3 separate regions of the Homo sapiens genome follow, and regions 1 and 2 are each linked to region 3. Evidence: fine-mapped expression QTL. A gene starts in region 3. Each other region holds a variant in brackets. All regions are shown on one strand. Distances are from middle to middle.

Evidence for each region. PIP is the estimated chance that this variant, and not a neighbour inherited with it, causes the effect. A credible set is the group of variants that fine-mapping cannot tell apart.
Region 1: its variant is the best candidate, but not a certain one, in a credible set for the expression of TECR in nasal epithelium (TOPMed, PIP 0.67).
Region 2: its variant is the best candidate, but not a certain one, in a credible set for the expression of TECR in monocytes after interferon gamma (Fairfax 2014, PIP 0.89).

Annotation. Positions count from the first base shown.
Region 1 is chr19:14,762,441-14,767,440 of GRCh38, reverse strand. It overlaps ADGRE2 (adhesion G protein-coupled receptor E2), which reads left to right. Exons shown (of 21, transcript NM_013447.4): 6 at 332-463; 7 at 1,060-1,206; 8 at 1,637-1,783; 9 at 1,871-1,917; 10 at 2,044-2,121; 11 at 2,831-3,008. Among named protein-coding and RNA genes, the nearest start is that of ADGRE2, 14 kb to the left of the region's middle. The variant A/G (reference allele first, on the strand shown) is at 2,336.
Region 2 is chr19:14,561,833-14,569,640 of GRCh38, reverse strand. It overlaps TECR (trans-2,3-enoyl-CoA reductase), which reads right to left. Exons shown (of 13, transcript NM_138501.6): 2 at 7,066-7,116; 3 at 6,384-6,435; 4 at 5,939-5,983; 5 at 5,738-5,841; 6 at 5,544-5,659; 7 at 5,354-5,459; 8 at 4,783-4,855; 9 at 4,649-4,692; 10 at 4,518-4,575; 11 at 4,351-4,439; 12 at 3,978-4,023; 13 at 3,661-3,897. The coding sequence ends at 3,770. NDUFB7 (NADH:ubiquinone oxidoreductase subunit B7) reads left to right here. Exons shown (of 3, transcript NM_004146.6): 2 at 2,708-2,876; 3 at 3,376-3,563. The coding sequence ends at 3,508. Among named protein-coding and RNA genes, the nearest start is that of NDUFB7, 6.3 kb to the left of the region's middle. RefSeq lists enhancers at 3,568-4,374, 5,991-6,798 and a silencer at 4,952-5,101. The variant G/A (reference allele first, on the strand shown) is at 3,875.
Region 3 is chr19:14,527,506-14,534,830 of GRCh38, reverse strand. It overlaps TECR (trans-2,3-enoyl-CoA reductase), which reads right to left and starts at 5,237. Exons shown (of 13, transcript NM_138501.6): 1 at 5,120-5,237. The coding sequence starts at 5,134. MIR639 (microRNA 639) reads right to left here and starts at 5,288; the gene lies at 5,191-5,288. It also overlaps a transcript of DNAJB1 not described here. RefSeq lists enhancers at 4,486-4,545, 4,909-5,493 and a silencer at 5,146-5,435.

The sequences.
Region 1 (5,000 bases), 230 kb before region 3:
GGTGAAACCCCGTCTAATACTAAAAATACAAAAAATTAGCCGGGCATGGTGGCGGGCGCCTGTAGTCCCAGCTATTCGGGAGGCTGAGGCAGGAGAATGGCGTGAACCCGGGAGGCGGAGGTTGCAGTGAGTTGAGATCAGGCAATTGCACTCCAGCCTGGGTGACAGAGCAAGACTCCGTCTCAAAAAAAAAAAAAAGAAAGAAAGAAAAGAAAAGGGAGCAGACAGTGGTGCCTTCCAGATGCTTCCGTGCCAGGAAACATGGCGGACCCTCAGCCCCGAAAGCTGCTCACAGCTACGGGCATTCTTCACCCTCTCCTTCCTCTTGCAGATGTGGACGAATGTCAGCAGAACCCAAGGCTCTGTAAAAGCTACGGCACCTGCGTCAACACCCTCGGCAGCTACACGTGCCAGTGCCTGCCTGGCTTCAAGCTCAAACCTGAGGACCCGAAGCTCTGCACAGGTAGAGGCCCCAGGAAGACGCTGTGAGGCTGGACGGGAGCTGGGGATGGAGCTGAGTCAGGTCCTCCAAAGCAGCCGAGGAGGAGGGAGAAGATCCGCAGGTTCCCACAAGGTCAAGGACCTGCTAAGCCCCTGCCTAAGGATTCACCTCCCAGGAAGGACTCGCCACACGGCAGGGAGGCGGCAGGGCCTTCAGGGCTTGGAGTGCCCTTGTGGGCCCCCAGACCTCACCCCTTCCTCATCTGTCACGTGCGAGTGGAAGAAGGTGTCACTTCCAGTTCTAAGAAGGGGAACCTCCACCATAGTGAGGGAGGGAGCAGGAGAGAGATTTTAGTCAGAAAGTCCAGCTCCCATGACTCAGTTTCCCTTTTGGTTTCACCTCCTATAAACTGGGGACCATGGTCCCTGCTGTGCCCATCTGGTAGGAAGACCATCATAAGATGCTTTGAAGGTGAAGTTGAAGGTCACCAAGTGGTGGCACGTGCAATAATGGTCTTCAGTCTGAGGCAATGAAAAGATAGGGGAGTGGGTGCAGTGAGTGGAGGGCAGGCCCAGGCTGGTCAGGGACAGGGTTTGACCCTCTGGCTTTGTCCTCAGATGTGAATGAATGCACCTCCGGACAAAACCCATGCCACAGCTCCACCCACTGCCTCAACAACGTGGGCAGCTATCAGTGCCGCTGCCGCCCGGGCTGGCAACCGATTCCGGGGTCCCCCAATGGCCCAAACAATACCGTCTGTGAAGGTCGAGAGCTCAGATCCCACGTTCCCAGAGACCCACAAACATCTGATCACATGTTCAACGGCGCCCACACAAACCAAGCAGAATGAGCGCTGGAGGCGCCCGACTGTGTCAGGCGTTCATTCTTCTGAGGCTAGATGAGAAAAGAGCAAGGGTCCTGCGGAAGGAGCTGGGGTACTGAGGGGGGAGGCTCAGGGGGACCCCAGGCAACAGCTGATGACTCACTGGGAGGAAGGCGTTTCACCATATTCATAACCTGCTCATCTGCACGGGGCCCACCTGCTGTGCCCAGGCCTCTCCACGCTTCCATAACCCAGCGTCCACCTCTCCAAGGGGGGCACTAATGCCGGGAGGAACGAGCTGGGGGCACAGACAGGAGACAGGACCCTCTCCAGGCTGGGACAGGACCTGACCCCCTTCTTCCTGTCCTCAGATGTGGACGAGTGCAGCTCCGGGCAGCATCAGTGTGACAGCTCCACCGTCTGCTTCAACACCGTGGGTTCATACAGCTGCCGCTGCCGCCCAGGCTGGAAGCCCAGACACGGAATCCCGAATAACCAAAAGGACACTGTCTGTGAAGGTATGACCTGGCCCTAGAAGCTCCCCACCCCCAGCACACACACTGACACGCTCCCGCCTAATGAGCCGCTTGTCTTGTTCCCTACAGATATGACTTTCTCCACCTGGACCCCGCCCCCTGGAGTCCACAGCCAGGTGAGTGGCCCCCACAGGGACGAGGCGGCGGGAACTCCATCCACACAGCACTGCATCCGTCTCCTTGTTCTAAACTTCCCACCCGCCGTCCAGGCTCTCTGACCCCCACATCTCCTCTCTCTGCAGACGCTTTCCCGATTCTTCGACAAAGTCCAGGACCTGGGCAGAGACTACAAGCCAGGCTTGGCCAATAACACCATCCAGGTAAGGACAGGACCCAGGGCAAGGGGGCGAGGCAGGAAGGTGGCTGCATCCCACAGAGGCCTGGGGCAGTTTGGGTCTGGGAGGGGACAGGACCCAATGCAGTGGGTGCTGGTCTGACTCCCAGCATCTTTCAGGGCTGGTGGAAGCTAATGGACACCCAAGTGCACTTAATATCTTTCCTCTTGCTTTCCCTGGACTTTGGGTTTAGGTCAGC[A/G]TTGATATTGCACAGAAGTGTTGGCCTCTGAGGGGCCATAACCAGAGTCAAGGATCACCTAGGGAATCCCATCCAATGTCATTTTTTTTTTAGACGGAGTCTCACTCTGTCGCCAGTCCAGAGTTTAGTGGCCCGATCTCAGCTCACTGCAGTCTCTGCCTCCCGGGTTCAAGCGATTCTCCTCCCTCAGCCCCCTGAGTAGCTAGGATTACAGGCACACGCCACCACGCCCGGCTAATTTTTGTATTTTTAGTAGAGACGGGGTTTCACCATGTTGGCCAGGATGGTCTCGATCTCCTGACCTTGTGACCCACCCTCATCGGCCTCCCAAAGTGCTGGAATTAGAGGCGTGAGCCACCGCGCCCAGCCGCCAATGCCATCTTCATCCCCCAGATAGACAGTCTCTAGGATCTGTTCCCTGGGGCTGAGCGGTTGGAGTCTTCATGCGGGCCCTCTGGCCCATGGCTCACTAGGTCTGTGTCCACATCCCTCCAGAGCATCTTACAGGCGCTGGATGAGCTGCTGGAGGCCCCTGGGGACCTGGAGACCCTGCCCCGCTTACAGCAGCACTGTGTGGCCAGTCACCTGCTGGATGGCCTAGAGGATGTCCTCAGAGGCCTGAGCAAGAACCTTTCCAATGGGCTGTTGAACTTCAGTTATCCTGCAGGCACAGGTAGGTCCCTGGGTCTGCCCCAGACTCCAGCTCTGCATGTTTTCTGTCTCCTTCCTTTCCCAGTCCCACCAGAGCCAAGTGACCACACCTGTATATCAGTGTTACTCTCATCGACAAACTAAAATAAGAGATTAAAAAGAAATACATACCAGTCTGGACAAGATGGCAATACTCAATCTCTACAAAAAAAAAAAAATCTTTTAAATTAGACAGATGTGATGGCACAACTGTGGCCCCAGCTAGTTGGGAGGCTGAGGTGAGAGGATCGCTTGAGCCCAGGAGGTTGAGTCTGCAGTGAACTATGATTGCATCACTGTACTCCAGCCTGGTTCACAGGGCAAGACCCCATCTCAAAAAAGAGAAGACGAAGAGGAGGAGGAGGAAGAAGAAGAAGAAGAGAAGGAGGAGGAGGTGAAGAGGAGGAGGAGGATAAAGAGGAAGAAAAAGGAGGAAGAGGGCAGGAGGGGGAGGACAGAAGGAGGAGGACAGGAGGAGAGGAGGGGAGGAGGAAGAGGAGGAAAGAGGATGGGAGGAGGAGGACAAGAGGAAGAGGACGGGAGGAGGAGGACAGGATGGGGAGGAGAGGAGGAGGAGAGAAGGAGGAGGAGAGGAGGAAGAGGAGGAATGGAGAAAGAGAGGAGGAGGAGAAAAGGAGGAGGAGAGGAGGAGGAGGAGAGGAGAAGGAGGAGGAATGGAGGAGGAGAGGAGGCAGAGGAAGATAGGAGGAGGAGAAGGAGAAGAGGAGGAGAAGAGAAGGAGGAGAGGAGGAGGAGACGAGAAAGAGCGGAGGAGAGGAGGAGAGGAGGAGGAGCACAGGAGGAGGAGGAGAGGAGTAGAGGAAGAAGGAAGAATAGAAAGAAGGAAAGGAAAGGAAAAAGAAATGCATAAATAACATGCATTTTCATTGTAATATGAATTATCAGCAGTAAATAATTATGATGAAGAATTTAAAATAACAAAATAGAAATCACTTCAAAAGAGAACAATTTATTTAATTTGGAATACTATAAATTAATATCATTTGATCTCTAAGTATGATTTCTTTCTTGTTTGTTTTTGTTTGTTTTGTTTTGTTTTGTTTTGTTTTTTTGAGACAGAGTCTCACTCTGTCGCCCAGGCTGGAGAGCAGTGACGTGATCTCGGCTCACTGCAAGCTCCGCCTCCTGGGTTGACAGCATTCTCCTGTCTCAGCCTCCCGAGTAGCTGGGACTACAGGTGCCCGCCACCACGCCCAGCTAATTTTTTGTATTTTTAGTAGAGACGGGGTTGCACCGTGTTAGCCAGGATGGTCTCTCGATCTCCTGACCTTGTGCATAATCCACTTGCCTCGGCTTCCCAAAGTGCTGGGATTACAGGCGTGAGCCACCACGCCCGGCCTGCATAATAATTTTTAAAGCATGAAAATGCATATAGCATTAATTTTATTAAGATAAAATTCACATAACATCAAGTTCACCACTTTAAAGTGTCTGTTTCACGTGGGGCGTGCCTGTAATGCCAGGCGCTCACACCTGTAATCCTAGCACTTTGGGAGGCTGAAATGGGTGGATCACTTGAGGTCAGGAGTTCAAATCCAGCCTGGCCAACATAGTGAAACCCCATCTCTACTGAAAATACAAAAATTAGACAGGCGTGGTGGTGCACACCTGTAATCCTAGCTACTCAAGAGGCTGAGGCAGGAGAATCACTTGAGCTTGGGAGGCAGAGGTTGCAGTGAGCCAAGTTTGCACCACTGCACTCCAGACTACGTGAGACAGAGTGCCACTCCATCTCAAACAAAAAAATTAAAATTAAAAATAAAAATAAGAAAAAATTTTAAAAGCGTGTGTTTCGGTAGAATCTAGTATATTCAGAAAGTTATACAACCGTCACCTCTATTTCTAAAATGCTTGCATCAGCCCAAAAGTGAACACTGCACATGGTAAGCAACCACTCCTCATTCCTCCCTTCCTCCAACCCATGGCAGCCGCTAATCTGCTTTCTGTTTCCATG
Region 2 (7,808 bases), 35 kb before region 3:
TCCGTCCACCTTCCTCCCACTGCCTCACATACCTTGCTTTCCCCAAGATCAGCTTTGCAAACGCTAGCAACCTGCTGCCCTTCTCTCTTGCTTACTCTGGATAAACTCACCTCTTTCCCTTCCTTGGTGCCTATCCCCGTGCAACTGAACATAATGGGGGGCGGGGAGATAAGAAAAAAACAGCTCTAAGCCAGGCAAAATGGCTCATGCCTGTAATCCCAACGGTTTGGGAGGCAAAGGCAGGAGGATTGCTCAAGGCCAGAAGTTCAAGAACAGCCTGGGCAACATAGCAAGGCCCTGTCTCTACAATTTTTTATTTTTATTTTTTAATTAGCTGGGTGTGGTGGCGCATTCCTGCAGTCCCTGCTGACCGGTCTCCCGATTGGTACTCCAGTGGACTCTTTATGGTGCCTGGCCTTTCTCTTACCTCCCGGATCCTTCACTCTCTCCCTCCCTCCTAGATCACTGTCCCCTGCCCTCTCTTTCCTCCTTTCCACCCCCTTTCAGCCAGTCACTTTGCTCACTGCAACATCTGCCTTCCCGGTTCAAGCGATTCTCCCGCCTCAGCCTCCCGAGTAGCTGGGATTACAGGTGCGTGCCACCACACCTGACTCATTTTTGTATTTTTAGTAGAGACAGGGTTTTACCATGTTGGCCAGGCTGATCTCGAACTTCTGACCTCAAGTGATCCACCTGCCTCGGCCTCCCAAAGTGCTGGGTTTACAGGCGTGAGCCACCGCGCCTGGCCCATATTTATTTATTTGTTTGTAGAGATGGGCTCTCGCTCTGTTGCTTAGGCTGGAGTGCAGTGGGGTGGTTATCACCCACTGCAGCCTCAAACTCCTGGGTTCAAGCGATCCTCCCGAGTAGCTCTGGATACTCCGTGTGCACTACCGTGCAAAGATAATTTTATTTTTTTCTGGACATGGGATCTTTCTGTGCTCCCCAGGCTGGTCTCCCTAATACTTAAGCACTGCCAGACACGCTGTGGTGCTCTGTCTTCTGTCTGTTCTGTGTCTCCCTCTGAGGGCAGGGACACTTGTGTGTTGTGTTGCCTGCTGTATCCCCACCACTAAGCACACAGTAGGCAGTCTAAAGTCCTTGCTGCTAGCTGATTATAAGTTCAAGACAAAAGAGGGAGGAGTCTAGGATTGCCACCTGGAGCTCCAAGTGCAGATAGGGAACAGCCAGGGGCTGCAGGTGATACCCAGGCCTGGGGCTCAAGCGAGGTGTGGGGTGGAGGGACCACATCGGGCTCATCTACATACGGGGCGGCAGCAGAGAAAAAGGCTCTCAGGCCGGGCACAGTGGCTCACACCTGTAATCCCAGCACTTTGGGAGGCCAAGGTGGGTGGATCACCTGAGGTCAGGAGTTCAAGACCAGCCTGACTAACATGGCGAAACCCCATCTCTACTAAAAATACAAAAATTAGTCGGGCATGGTGGCAGGCGCCTGTAGTTCCAGCTACTCAGGAAGCTGAGGCAGGAGAATTGCTTGAACCTGGGAGACAGGGGTTGCAGTGAGCTGAGATCTTGCCACTGCCCTCCAGCCTGGGTGACAGAGTGAGACTCCATCTCAAAAGAAAAGAAAAAGGCTCCCAGAACAAAGCGTAAGGTAAGGCAGCCATAGAGATGGGAGGAAACCTGGGGAGGAGGGATGTGGGAGGAGCCACAGGAAAGAAGGAAGCGGGAGGCTGGGGTCCTGGGCTGTTGGGTGGCCCTGTGAGAGCCCGTGTCTGGGCAGTGAGGGGGTAGGGCAGAAGCCAGGGAATGGGACAAGGGGCAGGAGAGGAGGACCTGGGCCTCAGTGGGATGAGAGAATCGCAGCTGGGAAGCAAAGGGGAGAGAAGCCAGCAGGGGACGACTGCCATTGAGATGTGAATATATCTCGTCTCACTTGCGCAGATGGGAAGGAGCTGGGACCGAGAAAGATGTGGTGGACGTCAGGAGGGCTAGGGAGGCTGGGTCTGAGGGAGGCGGTGGGGAACGAGTGCAGGATCGCCAGGCACAGGCTCCGGGGTGAGTGTCCAGGATTCCTCATGCTCCCATCGGCCCCCTCCTGAAGGTTGATTTGTCCGGAGTCAGGTTTGCTAGGTGAGTGGGGCACCGGGACCCAGATACTAGTCCAGCTGTCTTCTGAGCCCACGCCTAAGTACCTTACAGGTACTGTTAGCTCAGTGGATGCTCGGGTAACTTCCATGACCGGATGGTCAGTTCTGAGGCTGAGAGAGAGGCCACGCCGCCGGCCAGTGCAGAGCTGGGCCTTGGGTGGGTTGCAGACAAGAAAGGCTGGGAGTGCTGCCTGGAGCCCCAGGTGCAGGTGGAGGGGCTGAGGGTTACTCTGGGAGAAGGTGGATTCTGAACTCGGACTCTGGAGAGCGGGGCTGTAGAGAGCTGGGGACGGGCATCCCTGTGGGAGGGGAGGCAAGGATCCGGCACGGGATGTTGAGGTGCCTCAGGGTGATGGGGAGCCACCTTCTCCTGTCTGGCCCTTGGTGTCTGGAGTTGCCTTTGTGCAAATTAGAAAAGGAGGCCCCTTCAGGACAGTGCATCCGTCAAAGGCATCTGCCATCCACTGCCATCTGGATGTGAATGGGGGACACCCCAAGCCGTGCCTTCCTGAAGCCGTGTGCCTCGGTCCCCTGGGGATCCCCGGAATTGGGGTGGGGAGCCTCCAGCCTGGTTGAGCCCCGCCCACTCCCTGCAGAGATGGTGGCCACACAGCAGGAGATGATGGACGCGCAGCTGAGGCTCCAGCTGCGGGACTACTGCGCCCACCACCTCATCCGGCTGCTCAAGTGCAAGCGTGACAGCTTCCCCAACTTCCTGGCCTGCAAGCAGGAGCGGCACGACTGGGACTACTGCGAGCACCGCGAGTGAGCACCCCCACACCAGCCCCCAACACCCCGGCCCGCAACACCCCATACCCCCAGCCTTCCACACCCCTGGCCCACCCAAGCCCCCCACATGCCCAGCCCGCCCAAGCCCCCCTCCCACCCCCGCCAACACCCACAGCCTGCACCCCACCCAGGCCTGGCCCCTGGCAGGATGTGGCTCCAGAGGCCAGGGACCTGAACTGCCACTGAGGTTTCTAGCCGGGCCCCACCTTAGTCCCAGAGAGGGCTCTCTAGGGGCCTGTTTGATGGGGACAGGGCAGGTGGCTGAAGCCACCTAGGGGAGTGGCCAAGCCCAGGTTCCAGTGGGAAGCCCTGCCACCTGCGTGGGCAGACCCCAGACCCAAGCCACAGGCACTCGGACATGTCTTCTTCAGAGGCCTCCCCCACAGTGCTCTGGGACGGCCCCTCCGCTTCCCAGGGCTTGGGGGGCGTGTCCTGGCCAGGGACCCTGACAGCCCCTCTCGTGCTTTTCCCCCAGCTATGTGATGCGCATGAAGGAGTTTGAGCGGGAGCGGAGGCTGCTCCAGCGGAAGAAGCGGCGGGAGAAGAAGGCGGCAGAGTTGGCCAAAGGCCAGGGACCCGGGGAAGTGGACCCCAAGGTGGCCCTGTAGGGGGTGCACCCCCCACCCTATGGACCAGTCAAATAAAAGCCTTCAGGCCCCTCAACCAGAGTCCCCTCTTACTGCTCCGACGCGAGAGTGGGGAGAGAGTGAAGGGCAGTGTGGTGGTCCCCAACCCCGGAAAGAAACACACAGAGCCCGAGTCCGACTGGGGCAGGCGGGCTTTATTCCGGGTGCTGGAGAGCTGTGGGCCCCACTCCTCCCCCAGAATGCCACCGGGTTGAGGGGCTGAGCCTCAGCAGGGGTGAGCGCTCAGAGCAGGAAGGGGATGATGGGCATGCGCAGGGGCGGGTAGTCCCGGAACTCCTTCAGGTAGCTGCGGTGCTTGCCCTTGGCCCAGATGGTCATCTGGGTGAA[G/A]CCCACCAGGGAGAACAGGGCCACTGCAGGAAAGAACGGGCGTCAGGGAGGGGCTGCCGGCCCGGAGGGGCAGGGCCCCGCCGAGGGAGGGCGGCAGGCTCACCTGGGAGACACTGCGTCATGATGGCGAAACCGATCCAGGACCCCACCTGTGGGCAGGGGCGGAGAGTGAGCGTGGGCAGCCTCGCAACCCGTGTATGTGGCTGTCCTGGACTCAGCCAGCCACCTCCCGCCGCCCCTGCTTTCTGAGTCAGGGATGGGAACCCAATTCCAGCGGAGGCGGGGCTGTATACGGCGGAAGCCCAGCGGCACACGCCTCCCCGCCACCACAGCAGAGAGGCCGCGGTCTCCACCTCCCAATGCTCGCAGTGCAGGCGGCAAAAGCAGCTGCCCAGCCAGGCGCCCCATCCTAGGGGCTGGTCCCTCCACATGGGACCCCAAGTCCCAGGGCAGAGAGGGGTAAGGCAGCCCCTCACCTCGTAGGTGTAGTTGGGGCAGGACACCAGCAGGAAGAGCCACGTGAAGGGGTTCTTGGTGGGGTATGGGATCTTCCGCGTCTTGGACCCTGGCAGGCAGGACAGAAGGAGAAAGTCAGACCCCCTCACCCAGCCCAGCTGTCCCCCTGCCCCCAGCAGGCACTCACCAGCGGGCCGCAGGTCCCGCAGGGCCATGTGGATGGAGAAGTTGCCGAGCTGGCAGATCTGTCAGAGAAGCAGGATCAGCCTAGGGCCGCCCAGACTCCCCCGACCCCGTCCCCACACCCAGCCTCCTTACCACAAAGATGGCGAGCGCCAGTTTCACCTGCTGAGCTCCGTAGGCTGAAGAGGAAGCAGGGAGGGGAGCCCATGAGGGGAGGACCCGCTGGGTGGGGACCGTGGGGGAGGGAAGGATGGTCTGAGGCCACTTACTAGGGGGAGTGTAGAGAGGGTGATTGATGTAATAGGCCATCCACGCGGCGAAGCCCCAGTAGTAGGTGCAGTTCTGAAAGGGAGCAGGGCAGGGATGGGACTTGGGCCAGCACCGGACAAGGCAGATGCTGCCCATGTCTCATCCCGAGGGGCCTGGGAGCATGGTGGGAAAGGACAGGAGGGGCCTTGGGGCGGGGCTGGGGAGGATAGGCGGGGCCAAGGGGTGAGGCTAGGGCAGGGCTCTGTGAGGGCGTGGTGGACAGGAGGGGCCTAGGGGTGAAACTGGGGCGGGGCTCTGCAGGGGCGGGGCTGGGGGGATAGGCGGTGCCTAGGGGTGGGACTAGGGTGGATAGGCAGGCCTAGGGGCCCGACGGGGGCGGGGCTGGGGAGGACGGGCGGGGTCTAGAGGCTCTGCGAGGGCGGGGCTGGGGAGGTTAGGCGGGGCCTAGGGGTAGGGCTCTGCTGGGGCGTAGTGGCAGACAGGAAGGGCCTTGGGGTGGGGCTCGGTGGGGGCGGGGCGGGGTGGGGCAGAAAGGCGGGGCTTAGGGGTGAGGCGGGGACGGGCTCTCACCTTGAAGATGTTGCGCAAAGGCATAGTGCCATGGGAGAAGCGGTGCACGAAGAGCGTCTCCAGCAGGCGCTTGATGTAGTGGAATGAGTGACAGATGCAGGCGAGGCTGGTCGGGGGGAGCAGGCTCAGCTGGGGCTGGTCCGGCAGGTCTTCTGCCTTCCCCTACCCTCCTCCCACCTGCCCCACTTACTGCACCACTGTATGCCGACTGGACGTAAAGTCATATTTGTGGCCATAGATGAAGGGCACTCGGAAGTAGAAGAGCAGGTAGATGAAAAGGGGCCCCGCGTACTCTGTTAGGAAGACCTGAGAGTAGAGGGGGGCAAGATGAGTCACCCAACGTGGCTGACGGGAAAAGAGGCCGTGGGTAGGGTCAGGACTCACCGTCACCCAGCTGATCTGGGCCCCCAGGTCCCGGAAGTACAGTGTGGCCGTGGTGCCCACGGGCAGCTTCTGCAGAACATCCTCATCCTTCAGGGACTTGCCCTCTGCAGAGAGGCGGGCCAGGGCTCAGGGGCTACCCGGGCCTTCTCCCACTGCCACCCAGGAGCCCAGGGGGCGGGCCGAGTGGACAGCTGTACTCACTGGGGTCCAGGCGGAGGGACTGGCGGGCGGGGTACCACTGCGGATCTGCGGGGAGAACAGGGCAGTTACAGCCCACAGCCTGGCAGGGCTCAGCCGGTCCGCTGCCCAGCCACTGTGCCAGCTTCTCAGGGTTCCCAGGGTGCAAGGACCCCAGGACTCCACAGCTCCTCCCACCTGGGGGCAAACCCTCAGGCTTGTGCGGTTTCAGGACACAAGCCAGAAGAGCGCGGGCAGAAGCAGGATCTTGTCCTTCCCAGAGCCTAGCAAGGGCGTTCCTGCGGAGTGCCACGTGGAGGCGCCTGCCCCAGTCACGCCCCAGAAGCCTGGGCCACACTGGGGCATCTCTGCAGGCCCCTGGGAGAGGGGTGCAGGATGGGATCCCTCCCACCCTAAGGTCCCTGGTCAAAGGGGTTGCAGGGGCAGTGTGGCCGGGACTAGAACTCACGGGTCTTAGTGAAGAGGTTCTTGATCTCCGCAATGGTGGCGTGGGGCTCCACCTGGGGGAAGCACAGGCGCAGGGACGTCAGCTCTGCGGGGAGCCCAGACTCAGGATGGGGAGGTACTAAAGGGGATGGCAGGCTGGGGGTTGGGCTGTAGCTATGGGAAGGGGGAAGGGCTGGGGTCCAGGCCTCTGCCTGCAGTCAGGGAAGGACCACCGAGGGCCCTGCCAGTGCAGTGACAGCAGGGGTCTGGGGCTCCACTTTTACCCTCAGCCAGCAGGCCCCCAGCCCGGCTAGTGGCGGATTAAGCATGGGAAGGCAAGCCTGCTTCTCTGCCCCTCCTCTCCACTTCTCACCCATGACTCTCCCAGGAGCAAAGGCCCTCTGTCCTCCCCAGGGACAGCGCAAGCCCCTTCCCCCAGGCCCGGCCTCAGCAGGGGCAAGGCTCACTCCTCCACCGCCCTCCCAGGACCAAAATCCCCGCAGGGTCCACTGAGACTCCTGTGCCTCCATTTCCCCGCCACACCCAGGGGACATGGCTATCCACCCTACCCCAAGTGAGGGCATACCCCTCCATAGGGCAGGGGGTGGGGCACAAAGGGCCCCACTGGACAGCTCCTGGGCTATAAGGATTGGGGTCCCGGGCCCAGTGCCCTTGGCCCAGTGCAGCCCACGCCCCAGTCCTACCTTGTCCAAGAAACACAGCTTCTCCCTTGTCTTTGCGTCCAGAATCTCCACCTCGAAGAAGAGAACAGCCTTTTTAGGTTTCTTGGCCACCTTTGGGGGTGTGGGCCTGGGGAGCCCATTGAGGCCAGGGAGGAGGCCTGGGGTGGCCTCCCGGGCCAACAAGCTCAAGTTCAAGTCCATGCCGCCTGCCACCAGCCCTGCCACTCGGCTCTGCCCACGGTGGCCAGCAGCCCCAGCTGCCGGCCGTCAGCCCCCACCACCGACCTCCCCACGGGAAGCAGCCCTGGGCCGGGCAAGCGCGATCAAATTCTGCCGCGGTGCTGGAAAGGAGCCCGTGCCGGCCCTGGCACTGCCGACTTCTGTGCCAGATGTAACCCGAGTGGCAACCACAGCCACAGCCCAGCTAAATATAAAACCACCCCAGACTGCGCCCCCCAGGAGCCATGCCACAGACCTTCTCTGAGGGGGGCTTGGGAGTCTCCCCGGGGAGCCAGGCTGCCCTGAAAGCAGCTTTTGAGTGGTCACCTCAAAACCCTCAACGGCACCAGCACAGGGAAAGCCCCAGGGGCAGGCATGACAACACCTCCCAGCCCCCGCCCTGCACAGAGCCAGTGGCTAGAGGAGAGTGAGAGGCCAGCGGGCCGTGCAGGCCCCAGCCCGCAGCTCAGGCCTAGGGAGTTCACTGGGCTTGGAGAAATCCCAGCTATTTTGAGAATCCGCGAGACAGATCATCCATTTCCCCT
Region 3 (7,325 bases):
CCAGCTTAGTTTACCTCTCTGAGCTTCAGTTGCATTATCTGTAAAGTAGAACAGTAGTTCCCATCTGATCAGGTGCTAATAAGACTCACCCCTGGGCAAGGTGCGGTGGCTCACACCTATAATCCCAGCACTTTGGGATGCCAAGGCAGGAGGATCGCTTGAGCCCAGGAGTTCGAGACCAGCCTGGACTAACATGGTGAAACCCCATCTCTACTAAAACTACAGAAATTAGCCGGGCATGGTGGCACCCACCTGTAATAACAGCTACTTGGGAGGCTGAGGCAGGAAAATCGCTTGAACCGGGGAGGTGGAGGTTGCAGTGAGGTGAGATCACATCACTGCACTCCAGCCTGGGTGACAGAGCGAGACTCTGTCACAAAAAAAAAAAAAAAAAAAAAAAAAAAAAAGGCCAGGCATGGTGGCTCACTCCTGTAATCCCAGCACCCTGGGAGGCCGAGGCGGGCGGATCATAAGGTCAGGAGATCGAGACCATCCTGGCTAACACGGTGAAACCTCATCTCTACTAAAAATACAAAAAATTAGCCAGGCATGGTGGCAGGCACCTGTAGTTCCAGCTACTCGGGAGGCTGAGGCAGGAGAATGGCGTGAACCCGGGAGGCGGAGCTTACAGTGAGCCAAGATGGAGCCACTGCACTCCAGCCTGGGCGAGAGTGCGAGACTCTGTGTAAAAAAAAAAAAAGAAAGAAAACACCCTAAATGTGGGTTATGGGGGACCCCAAGAGGCTCGCTTCTGGGTATTCAGCTGCGGGAAATGGGCAGTGACCTGGACTGCTGGAGGCTGAAGACAGACTGATTTTCTCAGGAATTAACAGGCTCAATTACAAGATGTAGTAGCTGTTTTTCCAGTTGCTGCTGGGCTCATTGCTTTGAGTCTCATCTGCAGTGGCAAAAACAGCAATAAAATAAAAAAATACATTAAAAAAATACTGTATCCTAGGATAAGCAGTTCGCTTACCGACCTAGCTCTGACCCCAAGACAATGCTAAGGCCTGCTCTGGTATTCTAAGAAGACGGCTTCAGCCAAGGCCTGGAGGTGACCCGTTCTAGAGAGAGGCTTCACCTCAATTAGGCCACAGAGTGGAAAACTTTTCCTCTCAGATCAGATGAGATTTGGCAGTGATATGAGGCTACTATGGAAACAGCCACCGATCTCCACTACTGCTGGGATCCCAACTGCCATGATAACAGTCCTCAACCAGACATTAATTTGTTGCGTGACAGTCAGCACGTCCTGCACCCCTCTGGGCATTACCTCTATCAGTTGTAAACTGCACTTCATAATCTCCAAGGTCTCTCCAGGGGCCAACCTTTCAGTGGACAACAGACTGCTTGAGGGTGGGAAGATGGATTTAGTCCCAAGCAGAAATAGATTTTTTTCTTTTTTTTTTTGAGACAGAGTCTCGTTCTTGTCACCCAGGCTGGAGTGCAGTGGTGCGATCTCAGCTCACTGCAACCTCCACCTCCCAGGTTGAAGTGATTCTCCTGCCTCAGCCTCCCAAGTACCTGGGATTTCAGGCGTGCGCCACCACACCCAGCTAATTTTTTATTTTTTGTAGAGACGGAGTTTCATCATGTTGGCCAGGCTGGTCTCAAACTCCTGACCTCACATGATTTGCCCACCTTGGTGTCCCAAAGTGCTGGGATTACAGGCATGAGCCACTGTGCCCAGCTGAAATATATCCTTTATTTATTTTTTTTAAAACAGAGTCTCGCTCTGTCACCCAGGCTGGAGTACAGTGGCGTGATCTCAGCTCATGGCAACTCCGCCTCCCAGCTTCAAGTGATTCTCATTCCTCAGCCTCGAAGCCAGTAGCTGGGACTACAAGCACGTGCCACCATACCCAGCTAATTTTTTTGTTTTTAGTAGAGACGAGGTTTCACCATGTTGACCAGGCTGGTCTCGAACTCCTGACTTCAAGTGATTCACCCGTCTCAGCCTCCCAAAGTGCTGGGATTACAGGCATGAGCCACCTCGCCCGGCCAGAAATATATTCTTTGATGTAGACAAACCTTTTCTCAAATTGCTTGTTAAGTGTGAGTGAAAGCATCCTTTCTATTTTTACTGACCTACAATACACACATGCAGTTAAACTAATCTGCTTGCTATGCAATCCGCTGGGCCGGGAAACAACTGCTTCTCCCACCCAGAAGCCCTGTAGCTATCGCCTCTATGGGTACTTGGCAAAGGTTGGCAGAGAATAACAAACAACACAGCAAAATAACAATTTATTTTTTCCTTCAAGGTCACTTTGAACAGTGAGTTTGAAGCTTCCCTTTTTTTTTTTTTTTTTTTTTTTGAGACAGACTCTCGCTCTGTCATCCAGGCTGGAGTACAGTGGCATGATCTCAGCTCACTGCAACCTCTGCCTCCAAGTAGCTGAGATTACAGGCGTGTGCCACAACACTCGGCTCACTTTTGTATTTTTAGTAGAGACAAGGTTTCTCCATGTTAGCCAGGCTGGTCTTGAACTCCTCACCTCAAGCGATCCGGCCACCTCAGCCTACCAAAGTGCTGGGATTACAGGCGTGAGCCACCATGCCTGGCCAAAGCTCCCCCTTCTTTCTGGGAGAGAAAAGGATTAAGTACGGTGGAGCATATTCTCCAGTCCAAGTCTTGGGCCTCAGGCTGTGCCCAGCTTCCTGGAACAAAAGCACGCACCCCCAGGGTGCTCAGAGGCCTACTTTATCTGACTGTTAACTAGCAAAACTAAACCAACTACATTTGCAAAATGCCATATGGATGTTCCAAACTGCATGTTTCAAGCTGGACATGGTAGCTTTTTTTTTTTTTTTTTTTTTTCTTCAAACAGGGTCTCTGTTGCCCAGGCTGGAGTGCAGTGGCCTGATTTTTGGGCTCACTGCAGCCTCAACCTCCTGGGCTCAAGCCATCCTCCTGCTTCAGCCTCCCGAGTAGCTGAGACTACAGTAGTGGGACTACAGGTTTAGATATAGAGTTTGAGAGGGGAATCCACATCAGAACTTCATTCTAGAATGAAAACTTAAATGACAGAGATTATTGAATACAAACCTCCTCATTCTTGATACCATGTCAAAAATTACAGGATTTGTGGGTTAAAGGCTTCTAAGGGGCTAGGCACCGTGGCTCATGCCTGTAATCCCAGCACTCTGGGAGGCCAAGGTGGGTGGATCACCTGAGGTCGGGAGTTCGAGACCAGCCTGACCAACATGGAGAAACCCTGTCTCTACTAAAAATACAAAATTAGCCGGGCATGGTGGCTCATGACTGTAATTCCGGCTACTCAGGAGGCTGGGGCAGGAGAATCACTTGAACCCGGGAGGTGGAGGTTGCGGTGAGCCAAGATCACGCCATTGCACTCCAGCGTACTCAACAAGAGCGAAACTCCGTCTCAAAAAAAGGCTTCAAAGGATTGTGGGTAAATTTCCAAAAATAGTAGCAATAAAGGGGGCAGGAGGCAGAGGTAGTAATATTCAACTTGTCAATAAAAACAAACAGCCGGGCGCACTAGCTCACACCTGTAATCCCAGTACTTTGGGAGGCCGAGGAGGGCAAATCACTTGAGGTCAAGAGTTTGAGGCCAGCCTGGTCAACATGGTGAAACCCCCATCTCTACTAAAAATACAAAAAATTAGCCGGGCATGGTGGCGGTCACCTGTAATCCCAGCTATTCAGGAGGCTGAGGCAGGAGAATCGCTTAAACCCAGGAGGCGGAGTTTGCAGTAGGCCGAGATCGCGCCATTGCACTCCAGCCCGGGCAATAAGACCGAAACTCTGTCTCCAAAAGAAAAAAAAAATCCTTCTACGTATCCAAGGTACCTAGAGTAGTCAATTCATTAAGACGGAATGGTGGCTGAGTAGAATGGTGGCTGCCAGAGGTGGAGGTGGAGAGGAATGGGGAGTTAGTATTTAACGTCTACAGCTTCTGTTTTCCAAGATGCAAAGAGTTCTGGAGATGGGTGGTGGTGATGGTTGCACAACAATGTGAATGTTCTTAATGCCACTGAACTGCACACTTAAAAATAGTCAAGATGGTAAATTTTATGTGTATTTTGCCAGAATTTTTTAAATTGGAGGGGAAGTGAGAAACAAGAAATCGCTCGACCTGCTATTTTTCATTTGAGGACCAGCATGGCATAGTGGCTAGGAACTAAGACCTTGGCGTCCTGAGTTCCCCTATCTGTTTTGCATTTACTAACTAGGGGCCTTTGAACAAGTCACTTTATATCTCTGAGACTTTATTCATCCTTACAAACAGGAATAATAATAGTTCTTATACAAGGTAACAGAATCTCACCAGCACAAGAGTAAGCACTTGCTAAATTGTTATTTTGAATTTTAATAACAAATTTTATTATTTGATGATAGTTACTTAAAAGTCAGCAATAATTCAGGGATAATTGGTTGAATTATTAATATTATATTATCACCTAGGGCGATAAGCACATCAGAAGACTTCGTTTTAAGGGAAAAAGAGACCCAAGTTAGGAGTCAGAAGACTTGGGCTTCAAGAGTGGCTGTGGGTGGGTATAAGATTTCTCCTTGGTGACACCCAAGGGTTGACGTAGATGACCTCTTTGATAACCAGAAAGCAAGATCAGCTTCGCTGCTCTGCGAAAGCCAGCCGTGGAGCTGCACCTCCCTCACCGCCTAAGTCTCCCGGGAACGTCCCGGGCGAGGGAAGGGGTCCAAAGGTCGTACACAAGAATACTGATAGCAAAGCCCCTTCCTACGCTGGTGACGGCGGCGTGGCGCAAGATTTGTGCAAGACTCCCTCGGATTGGGAGCAAGGGTCCCGCACCTTCGTGGCTCCCATGACAAAGTCTGCAACTCAGCCCGCTGGGGGAGCTGCAAGGAACCTGCAAGCGTCCCAGCCCCTGCAGAGACCCCCAAGAAAAAGTACCCCCAAAACAGCCTGGGTTGCAGATTTATAAATACTTCCTGCGCACATGCGCATTGGAATTTACGAGTGGCCCGGGGCGCAACGCTTGCCCACTGCGCCTGCGCCGTCTGGCTCTTCCTTCGGGGCACAGGACCAGAAAGTGGGGTCCCGTGGTCCCGCAAAGAAGGAAAAAGAATGGGTCAGCAGTGGCCACACGGCCCCTGTTTCTCGCTTCTTACCTCGTAATGCTTCATGGCTCCCTCCCACGGCGGCTACTGCTCCGCGGCTGCTGCTGCCTAACTGCGCGGCACAGCACAGGCTCCCTACAGCGCTCGCAACCGCAGCGATAGACTAAACGCGGCTCTGCGTCCGCCCCGCCCCTCCAGGCCGCGCGCGCCCCGTCGGCCAATCAGGGCACGAGGCGCCCACGTTCGCCCCTGCTCCTTGGGGCCGGTCCGAACCAAGACTAGGACTAGCACCAGGGGATTGACCAATCAACTTGCGAGACCAATCGAAGGGGGCGGAACGCCTGTAGGAGGGGCTAAAGAGAAGGGGCTTGACCATCCACCAATCCAAAGGAGGTCTCTGCCCCGCGCGTCCCTTTGCCACGCCCCCTGATGGCGTCGCTGTGGAAACCAAGGTAAGCGACGGTTAGGCCAGACGCGGGGGCGGGGTAAGAAGTTGAGTGACAGGCAAGGCAGCATCCACATGACAGGCGGCGCCGAAGGGGTAAATTCTGAGGTGGGCGGCCCCCGGGGTACACCGGGAACAGCAGGAGAGGGCTAGGGGCTGGGGTCGCGGGCTGCGGAGTCTGGTTGGCGAGGAGGTCACTATGGGAGGAGACTCTTGAGTGGGAGGGAAGGAAAGGCGAAACGGAGTCGCGAAAAGCTCCCCATTTGGGAACCCCCAACCTGCAAGAACCTTGAGCCCCAGCCCCATTCTGGGGTGGCTTCACTGCCGTTTTTAATGAAAGCCCCGCCCCACTTTGTTTTTCTGTTTTGTTTTGTTTTTGAAACAATCTCGTTCTGTCCCCCAGCTGGAGTGCAGTGGCGCAATGACGGCTCACGCAACCTCCGCCTCCCGGGTTCAAGCGATTCTCATGCCTCAGCCTCCCAAGTAGATGAGATTACAGGCACCCGCCACCACGCCCGACTAATTTTTGTATTTTTTTTAGTAGAGACGGGGTTTCCCCATGGTTGGCCAGGCTGGTCTTGAACTCCTGACCTCAGGTGATCCTCCCGCCTCAGCCTCCCAAAGTGCTAGGATTACAGGCCTGAGCCACCCCGCCCGGCCCCCCTCCACACTTTGCTCCGCCCTATGGACAGGGGAACTACATTGGTCTCTGCCTGACGTCCAGAATCGTGTCTAGTGGCTCCAATGGGGCCACTGAGCCCTTGAAATGGGGCTGGTCCAGGCCGGGAACGATGGCTCACACCTGTAATCCTAGCACCTTGGGAGGCCGAGGGGGGCAGATCACGAGGTGAGGAGTTCGAGACCAGCCTGGCAGATATGGTGAAACCTCATCGCTACTAAAAATACAAAAATTAGCCGGGCGTGGTGGTACACACCTGTAGTCCCAGCTAATCAGGAGGCTGAGGCAGAAGAATTGCTTGAACCCGGGAGGCGGAGGTTGCAGTGAGCCAAGATCTCGCCACTACACTCCAGCCTGAGCAACAGACCGTCTCAAAAAAAAAAAAAGAAAAAAGAAAAAGAAATGGGACTGGTCCAAATTGAGATGTGCTGTAAATGAAAAACACATAAATTTCTGGCCAGGCACGGTGGCTCACACCTGTAATCCCAGCACTTCGGGAGGCCAAGACAGGCAGATCACATGAGGTCAGGAATTCAAGACCAGCCTGGACAACGTGGTGAAACCCTGTCTCTACTAAAAATACAAAAATTAGCCAGGTGTAATGGTGGGCACCTGTAATCCCAGCTACTAGGGAGGCTGAGAATCGCTTGAACCCGGGAGGTGGAGGTTGCAGTGAGCCAAGATCGCACCACTGCACTCCAGCCTGGGCGACAGAGTGAGATTCTGTCTCAAAAAAAAAAGAAAAAAAAAGAAAAGACTTTTGACAGACAAAGGAACAGGCAGTACCTGGCACACTTCTTCACCTCCTCTCCTTACTCTTGTTTCCAGATCCTGCCCCTGAGCTTTCATGAGCTGTTGAACCATCTGGAATTCACAGGCCTGTCATGAGAGACACGATGAGAAGTCCTTAAAGGTAGATCACTGATTCACAGGGGAGCAGGCGGAGGCAAGGGTGAGTCAGTGCTTGGAACTCAGTCATCCAGATTTGGCTCTGGAAACTTCTGAAGCTGTAGCCTTTGGGGATCCCTGACTGCGAGTACAGGAAGCCAACGCTATGTGGTCTTCTGGAAACTCATTATCTTTTTCACTGGTGCTATCTGGGAAAAACAGATGAAAACCTGAAGGTGTTCTGT